2 separate regions of the Homo sapiens genome follow, and region 2 is linked to region 1. Evidence: fine-mapped expression QTL. Tissue or cell type: whole blood. Region 1 holds a variant in brackets; the other region holds the start of a gene. All regions are shown on one strand. Distances are from middle to middle.

The links.
Region 2: it holds the start of RAB28, and the variant in region 1 is fine-mapped to the expression of RAB28 in whole blood (TOPMed, PIP above 0.99).

Annotation. Positions count from the first base shown.
Region 1 is chr4:13,373,569-13,378,954 of GRCh38, forward strand. It overlaps RAB28 (RAB28, member RAS oncogene family), which reads right to left. Exons shown (of 7, transcript NM_001017979.3): 6 at 2,977-3,054. Among named protein-coding and RNA genes, the nearest start is that of RAB28, 110 kb to the right of the region's middle. The variant T/C (reference allele first, on the strand shown) is at 2,094.
Region 2 is chr4:13,481,628-13,487,013 of GRCh38, forward strand. RAB28 (RAB28, member RAS oncogene family) reads right to left here and starts at 2,713. Exons shown (of 7, transcript NM_001017979.3): 1 at 2,449-2,713. The coding sequence starts at 2,523. LOC105374495 (a long non-coding RNA gene) reads left to right here and starts at 2,822. Exons shown (of 3, transcript XR_925413.1): 1 at 2,822-3,327; 2 at 4,534-4,700. RefSeq lists silencers at 2,245-2,864, 2,858-3,152, 3,115-3,174 and enhancers at 2,598-2,892, 2,688-3,595, 2,855-2,974.

The DNA of each region.
Region 1 (5,386 bases):
ATATGGTTACTGTGTTAATAAACTGCATTCACTTTCTTTTCTCTCTCTTCCTCTTCCTTGCAAAGCTTGCAAAGTGTGTTGATAACTCATTTTATATAACTCCCAAATAGGAGCAATCTAGGTTAGAAATAAACTAGCAGAATCTCTTTAAATTGTCAGTGAATGAAACTAGGACTAAAACCTCACTGTAAATATTTATGTCACAAACTAAATTATTATAGTAGAGCATCAACATCAATGGGACTGGTGAGTCTGCCATTTAACTCCTTCTCTATAGAATAATACAAAGTACTTTCAAACATTCCCTTGAATCCCCCCAGTAATCTTTCAAATGTCGCAACAACCACATGCAGTGTGTATGTGTGTGTATATATATGTATGTATGTATGTATGTGTGTGTGTGTATATATGTGTGTGTGTATATATATATAATCTGCACTTCTTAGTCTTTTAGATGAACTTGCCAAAATGTTTCCACTGAGAAATATGAATTGTAAAATCAATAATTTAATTGGCAAAAACACCAAATTCATCAGGATCAAGAAAGACTAATAAGGATTCTTGCTATACACAAAGAATTTTGACAAACATATAGAAGAGTGCTGCAGTAACTTGAATTCACCTTCAAATGAATGCATTAAGAGTAAATGCCACCAACAAACTGAAGATAGAATTAAACCTCAAAGCATAATAAACAAAGTAGATGTGCAGGGAGGGTAGGGAACTATGTAGTTAACACATCTAATATCTCTTTATTTAAAACACACTAGGATATTAAGCCCATATCTAAAGTCAAAATAGTAACCCTGTTGATCTTGCAACATGAGGGACCTAATGTTAATAAAGCTTCCCCCAAATTTTGCCTCCAGTTGTTTCATTTCTCCAGAGGTCTCCTTGTATCTGATCACCACTGCACAGCTCAGGCAGTACAAGGAATCCTTCCTCAGTGCAGCCCTCTCACCTGTGAAGCACCAGCCCACCATTCCCCTTTTCAGAAAGACAACCAATCATTGGGTTTCTCCTGTCTTCATTCCTCCAGGCAAGAAACCTCAGGGTTATCTCAGACTTCTATCCTCTCTTATCCAATAATTCCACAAGCCCTATTGGTTCTTCTTTAAAATCTCCCTTACATCCATCCAACCTTTCCATTCCATCTTGACTTTGGTCTTTTTCACATGGTAGCAGTAACTCAGTCTCCTTACCTCAATCTCCCTCCCATCCAACGACATATAAAAATATCCCATTAGATTAATTCTACCTAAAAACTGCTTTCATTTATTGCCCTACCTCAAAATGATTATAGGTCTAATAAAATTAATCAACTTGGCATTCATAAATCCCCAAAATCTGTTCTCAAACTCTTTATACTCTAACACAAATGGTCATTTATTTTAACCAAACTGCTCTTCTGTTTCCAAAATACAACCTAACCTTTTCTACCCAGGTATATTATTCATACCAGCTCCTCTTTCAGCCATTTTCTCCCTTCCCACTCCAAACTGCCCAGTACACTTTCCCCCAGTATGGCAGAGTGGAAATACCAAGGGCATTGGTGTCAGAGAGACCTGGGTGCAAATTCTGGCTCCACCACTGCCCAATTAATGGTTAGTGATCAAGTTACTGAGTCTCTCCACAGTCTCAGCTTCCTGATCATAAAATGATAAAATTTCACCTGATCCAGGGAGTTATTATGAGGATAACTGAGATAACACAGTCCCCCTGGCACATAACCTATTAATTTTCTTTACTAAAAGCAGGGACATTTTAAAGTCTTTTAATTCTTTTTTAGACCCACCACTATACTGAGTTTACAATGTATGACCAATAAATCACTTATGATAATCATAGACTCTCTAACTAAGCAGAGACAAACATTATTTAGACAGAGAAGCTAAAAAGCAAACAAATTACTTGACCTCTGGGATCCAAGGTCTGTGTGATCAAGCAAATCATGGTGACTTCTCTTTCCTATATTCTCCTAGGCCCAAAACAAGTAACCACTTTTTCTGTGTCTGGGAGCTATTTAAACATCACAAAGTATCTTAGCACTGTATTTGGCCATACCAAGTGCTAAAACAAATGTCTTTGAATGA[T/C]GGGAATTAAAACTAGCAAACTTTTAGAGTTTCAAATGTTTTAATCAAGTCTTAGAAACAGCCATATCAGTGTAACAATTTCAAATATTTGCTTCAATTGTTTTAAAACACACACACACACACACACACACACAGAGAGAGAGAGAGACCATGAGAAAAAGATACAGAACTAACTCTAAAAGAATTCAAGAAAAATTTAAGGATGGGAAAAGATAATTATACTTTTTTAGTTGCACAGGGTGCGAATGGGGTGGAAGAAATTGAGCAAAAATGTAATTAGTTTGTTACTTCTAACCAAACCACTTCTGAAGCATAACTTTATAGGCTCTTACTCTGATTTTTCATTCTATCAAACATATGAATTAGTGGGAAATTATAGTGGTACTTTAAATTTCTTGGCTGCCGCTATGCATGTTTTTTTCTTAGCCTAAGAAAACTATCTAGGAATAGTGAAAAAACATAGAAATCCTTACTAATTAATAACACTACTAAACTGACAATAAAATAACATCAAAAACTAATATCACTACAGTCAAGGATGTTTTAAAATTGAATAGAGGCTCCAAAAGGATTTAAATAAAGAAGTGCCAAACAATGTGGTCAGCACCTTAACTCATTAGTTAACCACTAATAAAAATTTTCTTATACTAGTATCTTTTTCCCAACAAAAGAGACAAAATGAGGTTTCAAGGGTATCATAATTTGGCAAAAAGTTAACATTCTCCATCTTCTGCAATAAACACTGATTCATACATACAATCTATTCCCAAAGCTTTTAGAGATACGTACACAGAAGGCATAAATGGGAAAGAATTTATGGGTGAAAATTAATGCCTTGTAAGAAATTCATTAATTTTTTAAATATAAAGTTCAAGGTAATCACCTGTGACTGTTCTATTTCTGCTTTGTTTAATTTGATCCCAAGGATTTCAGCAGCAACTTTCTGAAAGCACAGGAAGACCTACATAACAAAAATGGGTTTAAATGATTTAAAAGAGGCATGCTTAAGTTATCTTCAAATAAACAGAATTTTCTTAAAAATGATAAACAGCAATAATTGCAAAAATATGATATAGCAGGTGATTCCAAAAATAGCTTTATTTGTCAAATGTAGCAACATTTTAAATATAATAATTTTTAAATTATAAAGCCATAATTTAAAACTCCATGCAATTCAATGAATTGATCATTTTCTCTAAACACACACATGAAAGATTTAACATGATGATTACAGCTACCACTTTAAAAAACAACAAAACAATCCTACTTACTACTATAAAAACTCCCATAATTCCTGAAGAAAATAAAAATAATCTATACTTTACCAACCTAGTTTTTCACTGTCGGTTTTATCTTGGTCCTTTTAGCCACCTTTGGCCTATCTCAAAAGGTCTTAGTTTCTAACACTTTAATACTCTCTGTGCCTTTCATATCATTCCAGCAAATTCTCCATGTTTCTTGAGTAAAGCAACTTGGTACTGTTTACTATATTTTATCAGTTCAGAGCAAAGGAAAAATATATGCCATTACGATTAAACAAAAATAGACAAATATTTTTCTATAAATAGCCTTTCCACACATAGTTAGCTTATGTCAGGTCTGCTGTAATTACTAGAGTTCCAATCCTGACATTTACTGTAGTATAACTTATCTTTTCTTCATAAATGTCCTACCATATTCTTATCCCTATTCATCACATGCTTATAGAATATTTATCAAAACTTTATTAATTTTTACTTCTAACAAAAAAGGATACATATTCCTGATAGCCTTATGCCACTTGTACCCTAAGAAGCATATTTTAGTTCACTGATGGTCAATGGTCAAGGAACAACAGGAAAAGTACTGTGGTGGAGTGGAGAGAAAGAGTGGTTATAAAAGAAGACGAGCAAAGAGATGAAGGGAGTACAAACCATGTAAAATCTGGTAGGCTACTGGAAGGACTTTGGCGTTTACTCCAAATGAAATGGAAGGCATGGGAGGGTGGCCCAATGTGACTTTTATTTTAACAGCATTAGTCTGGTTGTTTGTATTGAACATTCACTATAGGAGACCAAGTGTACAAAAACAGAATCAGCAAAGAAACTAATGTAAAATATTATGGAGGCTGAACCAAAGTGGTAGAAGTGGACAAAGTAAGAAACAGTCATCAGGTTCTGGATATATTTTCAAAGTACAGCCAAGGGGATTTGGTGACAGATGTGGGGTGTGAGAGAAAAAGAGGAGTCAAGAAAGGCTCCAAAGTTTTTTTGGCCTGAGCAACTGGTAGATCTGCTATTTATTAAAGTGAGGAAGACTGTGAGAGATTTGAGGAGGGAATAGCAAGAGCTCAGTTCTAAACATGTTAAATTGGGCAGCCTATTAGACATCTAAGAGGAGATGCTGAGCGGGCAGTTGGATATAAGAGTCTACAGTTCAGGGGAAAAGTCTGAGCAAAGCCAGAAGACTAAATAAAGCCATTAGGAATAAGTGTAGAAAAAGAGATTATCAAAGGACTGAACCTTAGTTGGCTGGAGACATAAGAAAATTAGTCAAGGGGACTGACAGAGTAGTTAGTGAAGCAGGAAGAAAACCAGGAGGCGTTGTATCCTGGAAGCTAAGTGCAGAGAGTATTTCAAAGAGACGAGAGTGATCAGCAATTATTTATGTTGCTACTTAATAAAATAAGATGAGGGCTGAGTACTGACCATTGGATTCAGCAAAAAGGAGGCCATTGATGACGTGAATAATAGCAGTTTGGGTAAAATACTGAGGGCAAAAGTCTGCTGGAACTGGAAGAGAAACTGGCAAAAGAAGAACTAGAGACAATTCTTTAAAACATCCACTGGAAAGTGAAGGAAGGAAATAAGGCAACAGCTAGAGAAAAAATGTGGCATCAAGAGTTTTCTTGTTTTTAAGATAAAAGAAGTCATAATATTTTCTGTGTTGAAAGAATAATCCAGTAGGTGGAAAAAAAATAATACATATGAAAGAGAGAGAACTGCTAAAGCAATATCCTTGATTCAGCAAAGATAAATGGGACTAGTACACAATGGAGAAGTTGGCCCTAGCTAGAATAGATCCCATAGTAACCACAGAGAAGACAGAAGATATGAGAACAGATGGGGTAAGTAGGATGAGGTTAGACCTGGTAGCAGCAGTATGTAGAAGTTGTCTTCTGTTTGTTTCAAATTTCTTATAAAATAGGAAACAAGGTCATCAGCTGATAGAATAGAGGAGGATAGTTTGAACATTTGAAGAGAGAAGAGAAGCTATGAAATAGTCATCGGCCTGGTGCATTGGCTCACACCTGT
Region 2 (5,386 bases), 110 kb after region 1:
AATATTTTGCCTCAAAAAGCTCTTAAGAGACTATGTAATAAAAGAAAAAATATGAATCAGAAAAGGAAAGAAATAGAAACACGTGATACTGGAAGGAGGAGCTAAATTTCTCTTGGAGAAACTGTTAGTCATCATCTCAATACTCTATTGCATCTGTCAGTGTGTTGAAAAATGCTCAGAGTTAGATTGAGCAGGAAAAACAAATGCCAGGAAAAAAGAGCCAAGAGTTAAATCAGGATACAAGTAAGAATGAAAGAGAGGCTGAGTTCACAAAGAAAAGAACAATAAAGGAAAAAGAATGGGAATGTTGGTGGCTGCCAAGTATTTGAGAACTGAATAGGGTATGGAGAAAAAAATTCTTGATTTAAGAATAATGAAAGAAGGTTAGGTGTCAGATGTTTGTGTCTGGAAGTTCCTGTTAGAAAAAGCTGTTACAGTTTTAAAATAAGTTATTTAGTCAAGATAATGAAGATTAAGTCAGAGCACCATAAAAAATATTAACTGTTATCCTTTGAAGCAGAATGATAATACTAATTCAAAAACATGGAAGTGAAAAAATTATCCTGTCCTATACAAGAAAAAATTTTAAACAGAGATAAAAAACCATAATTATTCACACTAAATTAGCAACAAAGAGGAAACATGTATGATAGGCTAAATAAAAAACTCAGACGCAAAATTATGAACAAATTTCACTAAGTAATATATGTACAATAAATACTGTTAGAAAAATGAACAACAGTTTAAAGAATTATGATAGCATATAGGATAACCAGCAATTTTTGTGTCTTTTTACAAATGTATTGTTATGAGTTGTCATTATCATTTTAAATGGGAAATAAGATCAGTTATGAATTGAATACAGTAAAATTTAAGAGCCAAAACCTTAGACGGCCTTCAAAAGAAAATCTAAATGATGAGAAAACTATAAAAATCTAACAAACTTTTTATTGAATAAAGGTGTTAGAAACAATGATTTATTTATAGCAATTCATTCATTCGAAAAGTTTACTAAGTATACAAAAATTAATATACTTTATAAAGAAAAGTTACCCCAAGTTCCTTTCTTCCCCCAACGTTTAAAGGTAATCAGAGCATATTGTTTTCCTCAGCTTTAAAAATCTGTAACAAAGGATCCAAGAAGACAAGAAAGAAACAAAAAAATACTTCAAATTTTGCATATAAAATTTTACATCTTTCCCAGGTGACCTCGAAACTCAAATGTCAGAACCAAAGGCAGAAGCAGGTATCTGGGCAGTGCCAACTGTCAGGGAGGATGCAAAGAGAAGTCGTCACCAGAGAAACCAGGGTCCGAAATGCAACCAGCAACAGGGAAATGTGAAGCCTTAAACAGGAAATAAAAGCCTGGGTTTCTTTAGACTATGGTTGGGATAAGGAAGGGGAGTACAGGGGTGATAAACTTTAGCAATATTCCCAGAAAGTGTTGGCGCCTTTGACAGAAGCATGGGAAAGAAGGCATCCGGGTAGAGGCTCTTCACTATTTGCTGGTGGAGGGATCATAGACCCCTCTGAGATCTTATGGACCCTCTCCCCAGAGCACGTACCGGGCAGTATTTACTCCATTTCAGGAGTTCCACAGCCTTGGGGTAGGAGCCCCTGCCTAGGAGATAATAAGACTGACGCTGCCTGATATTCTCACGCCCGCATTCATTCATTCGAACAGGGGATCCCTTTTGTCACGCAAGCAGCTCTACCCTCAGCATCCTACCCGTAACAGGAGCTCCATAAACACTTGTTGACTGACTGCTTGTATCGAGTGCTGAGCTGGAAACAGAGGTGATGAACAGGTATGATATTAAAATAGCAACTAGAGTGTACTGAGTGGACACTGTGCTCTAAAGGTTTTATGTGTATTTTCACATTTAATATGTATTTTCACATTTCTCCCTTTGCGGCGGCCCTTTTCAATACCCATCTTACAGATGAAGCTTAAACTGATTAGCAATTTGCCCTCCAATGACCCGACGACTAAGTGGCAGAGCCCCAATTCTCACCCGGGGAATACTGATTCCAGAGCTACGCTCCTGGGAGCTCACGATGCAGTAGAAGCATCAGAAACGGTAAAGGGGGTGGGAGGGGAGGAGTAAGTGTGACCCAGACTACAAGTAAGAGGAGCTAAGATGCCTTGGCAAATCCCTGCCAGTCCTGAGAGGCGGGAAGCTGAAAGGCTGGCCCGAGTCTTGCAGGAGTTCGCAATCCAGGCGGGGAGTTAGGAAGTGACTCTTTTTTAAGGGGGAGCTGGACAGCTCTCGTCGGCCTTCACCAAGCGCCCACTTCGTGTCCGGCCTCAGGCCACACAACCAGAAGGGCCCGGGCCTAGAAGCCCGAGGGCTCGGGGTAACGAGGCGACGCCGGGCGGCGGGGAGGAGGCCGGGGACCGCCGGGGTTCCTGCAGGCCTGGGACGGCGGGCCTGCTCGAGGACTGACCTTCCCGGAGGCGCCGTCCCCCAGCACGACGATTTTCAGTTGCCGGTCCTGGCTCTCCTCCTCAGAGTCCGACATGGTGTCCCGGGAACCAGGCCCGCCCCTCGAGGTGGGGGGGGAAGGGAAGGATGAAGGCTCCGGGGGCGGGGGAGAGGAGGAAGGGAGGTAGTTGCGGCAGGACCCCCGCCCCGGTGTCTCCGCGCCGGCAGGAGGTATTCGAGGAGAATCACTCGGCAAGCGCCATCTTGCCCACCTCCCCGCCCTCTGCGCGCGGCCCCGCCCCCTACGCGCACGTCGGGCGCGCGCCCCCGCCTCAGAGCCAACCCGCGCCGACCGGCGGCCCCGCCTGACGAGCCGAACCACTCGCGGCCCTGGACTGGTGTGGGGGACATTCCGGCGGGAGAGGCGAGGCGCTGCGTTTCCCTTCAGGAGACAGTTGGCTAGAAGAAGAAAAGAAGTGTTCGTTCAAATTAAGGAGAGAAAACGGGAGCAGAGCAGCTTTCAGGCGTTCCATCAAATTCCCTTTTCTCCTTCCCTCTTGAGAAAGTCTCTGAAGGGAATGGTTCAGCCTGACGGGGTGGAGCAGTGACGCCCGGGCTACGCGCCAGGGTTGCCTGGCAGCCAGGAGTTCGAGGACCGGCGGCGGGGCGGGGCCTGTCTCCGGGCACCCGGGACGCCCGTAGCCTGGCGGAGAGCGCCAGAGAGGGCCCCTGAAAAACCGGACCAGGGAAGAGGGTACCTCGGGGCGGATGAGGGGACAGCTGCTAAGGGCCGAGGCTGCTGGGAAGCCTCAGTAGCGGCCGTGAATACAGTGGAGCTCCGGCGCTGCTTATTTCGGCCTAACTCTTGGTTTCCTCATCTGAACAACCCCAGGCTCCCATGGTTCGTTCATCAGACGCTACTGATCGCCAACCTCCTGGCACCCCATCTTTACCCTAAGGCAGCAGTTCTCATAAAGTGTGGTCTAGGGACCTCTGGAAATCCCGATGACCTCAGAACAATTTTCATAATAATACGGACACCTTGTCTGTCTTTCTCACGTTCCTTCTCTCACTAGTATACCGTTTCCTGGAGGATACGCTTTGTGTACGACGTCATCACTGGCAGCTAAGGGAGCTTGCGTTTGTTGTTTTTAAACATTTCTCAGTTTTCATTTCAATGCAGTAGTGATAGGTGTAACCCACATAAACATAAGCTCTTTGGAGGTCACAGTAATTCTTTAACATTATAGAGAGGCCCTGAGTCCAAAAAATTTAAGAACTGCTGCCCTGGATAATCTCAGTCCAGGAGCGTTAGGTAAACGGCATAAATGAAATTTACAATTTAGTGAGGTAAATTCAAAAATAATAATGCTGTCCTGCTATGGTTGTTTCATTGTTAATCACTTAAAATTTATTGTTACCTTTACTACTATTAGGAATTATGAAGTATAATTATCCCCATTTTGCAGATGAAGTATCTTAAGTTAACAAAATGCTTAGCCCAGAGGCAGTAGTCTTGGAGACCATATGGGCATTAGAACAGGAAAGCAGAACAGTGTAAAGAAATGCCCAGACCTAGAGGCATCACTGGAGTTTAATCTCATGTTTACTAGATATGTGTCCTCGAGCCTCAGTTAGTTCACCTGTAGAACAGACTACTGCCTTTGTGTAGGTTTGAAAATTAAATGAAATAATCGGCATAAAGTAGATAGCACAATGCCTGGTGTGTAGTAAGCACTCAATATTAACCAGTGTAACTATCACCCTCATCATCATCATAATTAGATGATGGTCCGTGTTGGAAGTGTCACTACTTTCTAGCCAATTTACCTTATACAAGTTTCTTATGTAGAGCCTCAGTCTCTTCATCTGCAGAGAGGGCTGGCCCACAATTATAGGTACCCAGTTAAGTATTAGTACCCAATTCTTTCCCCAATCCCGCACCACCATTGCCACCACCAATTTTCTATTCACCAGATTTATTCATAAGAATTAGAAGAAAGAGGATATGTACTTGTTAGTGAGAAGAATCTACTTCCAGTGAGGACAGACTTAACCACTTCTTGTCCATGAGGGCAGTTAAAATGCAAGAAAATTTCTTTTCCAGTCTTCCTTAGATAGCTATGTGATCCACCGGACTAATGAGACAGAAGACAGTGTCCTTTGGAAGACATTTGTAAAAGAACCCTCCCCCCACCATTTAAAAAAAAGGAAAAGAAAAAAGGAGAGTTACAGGGGAGTCCTCCTCCTCCCTTCCTTTGCTGTCATTATTAGGTAAGAACAGGATTTTTGGAACTACTACACTTTGTTCACTCTATCTTCTCGGTTTCTTGTTATGGGAAATAATAATATGGTACTTTGGCGATGAATTGTGTTACCTACAAACAAAAAAATTCCAACTGACATAACTACTTCGGCCAAAAACTAGATTTAGCTGAACTCATAGGCCTGATTTTCATATGTGGTTTTATATGAAGGGAAATCTAGAAGAAAGCTTCTCATTTTCCACTCATCAATTTCTGAGATGACTGCTTTGATTGAGAGACAACATTCATTTGGATATGGGTACATCAATAGGATAGTGTTATATAAAACAAAAAGTTGCACTATTTTAGGGATCATATTTTACACATATGGCAAGTTTCTGGGTTAAAAGTTAGAATTTAAAGACTTAGAGCCATTTTTATAAAGAAAAAGAAAAAAAAACTTTCTATGTGAGGAGGACCATTTTAGCATTGAGAGCTTCCAGTATGATACTCTGACATACTAAAGAAACATAGAGCTGATCCACCAAAAAGAATATATCTTTGTGGATTCTCATGTACAATGCTCTTAACAGGGTCAAAAATTAGAGGAATGGTCTTCAGTCATTTTAAAACTAATAGACAAAAGGTTTATAAGAATTCTAGACATTGTATAAAATATCTTTTATAGCATCTCTAACAGATAATTATTCAAAC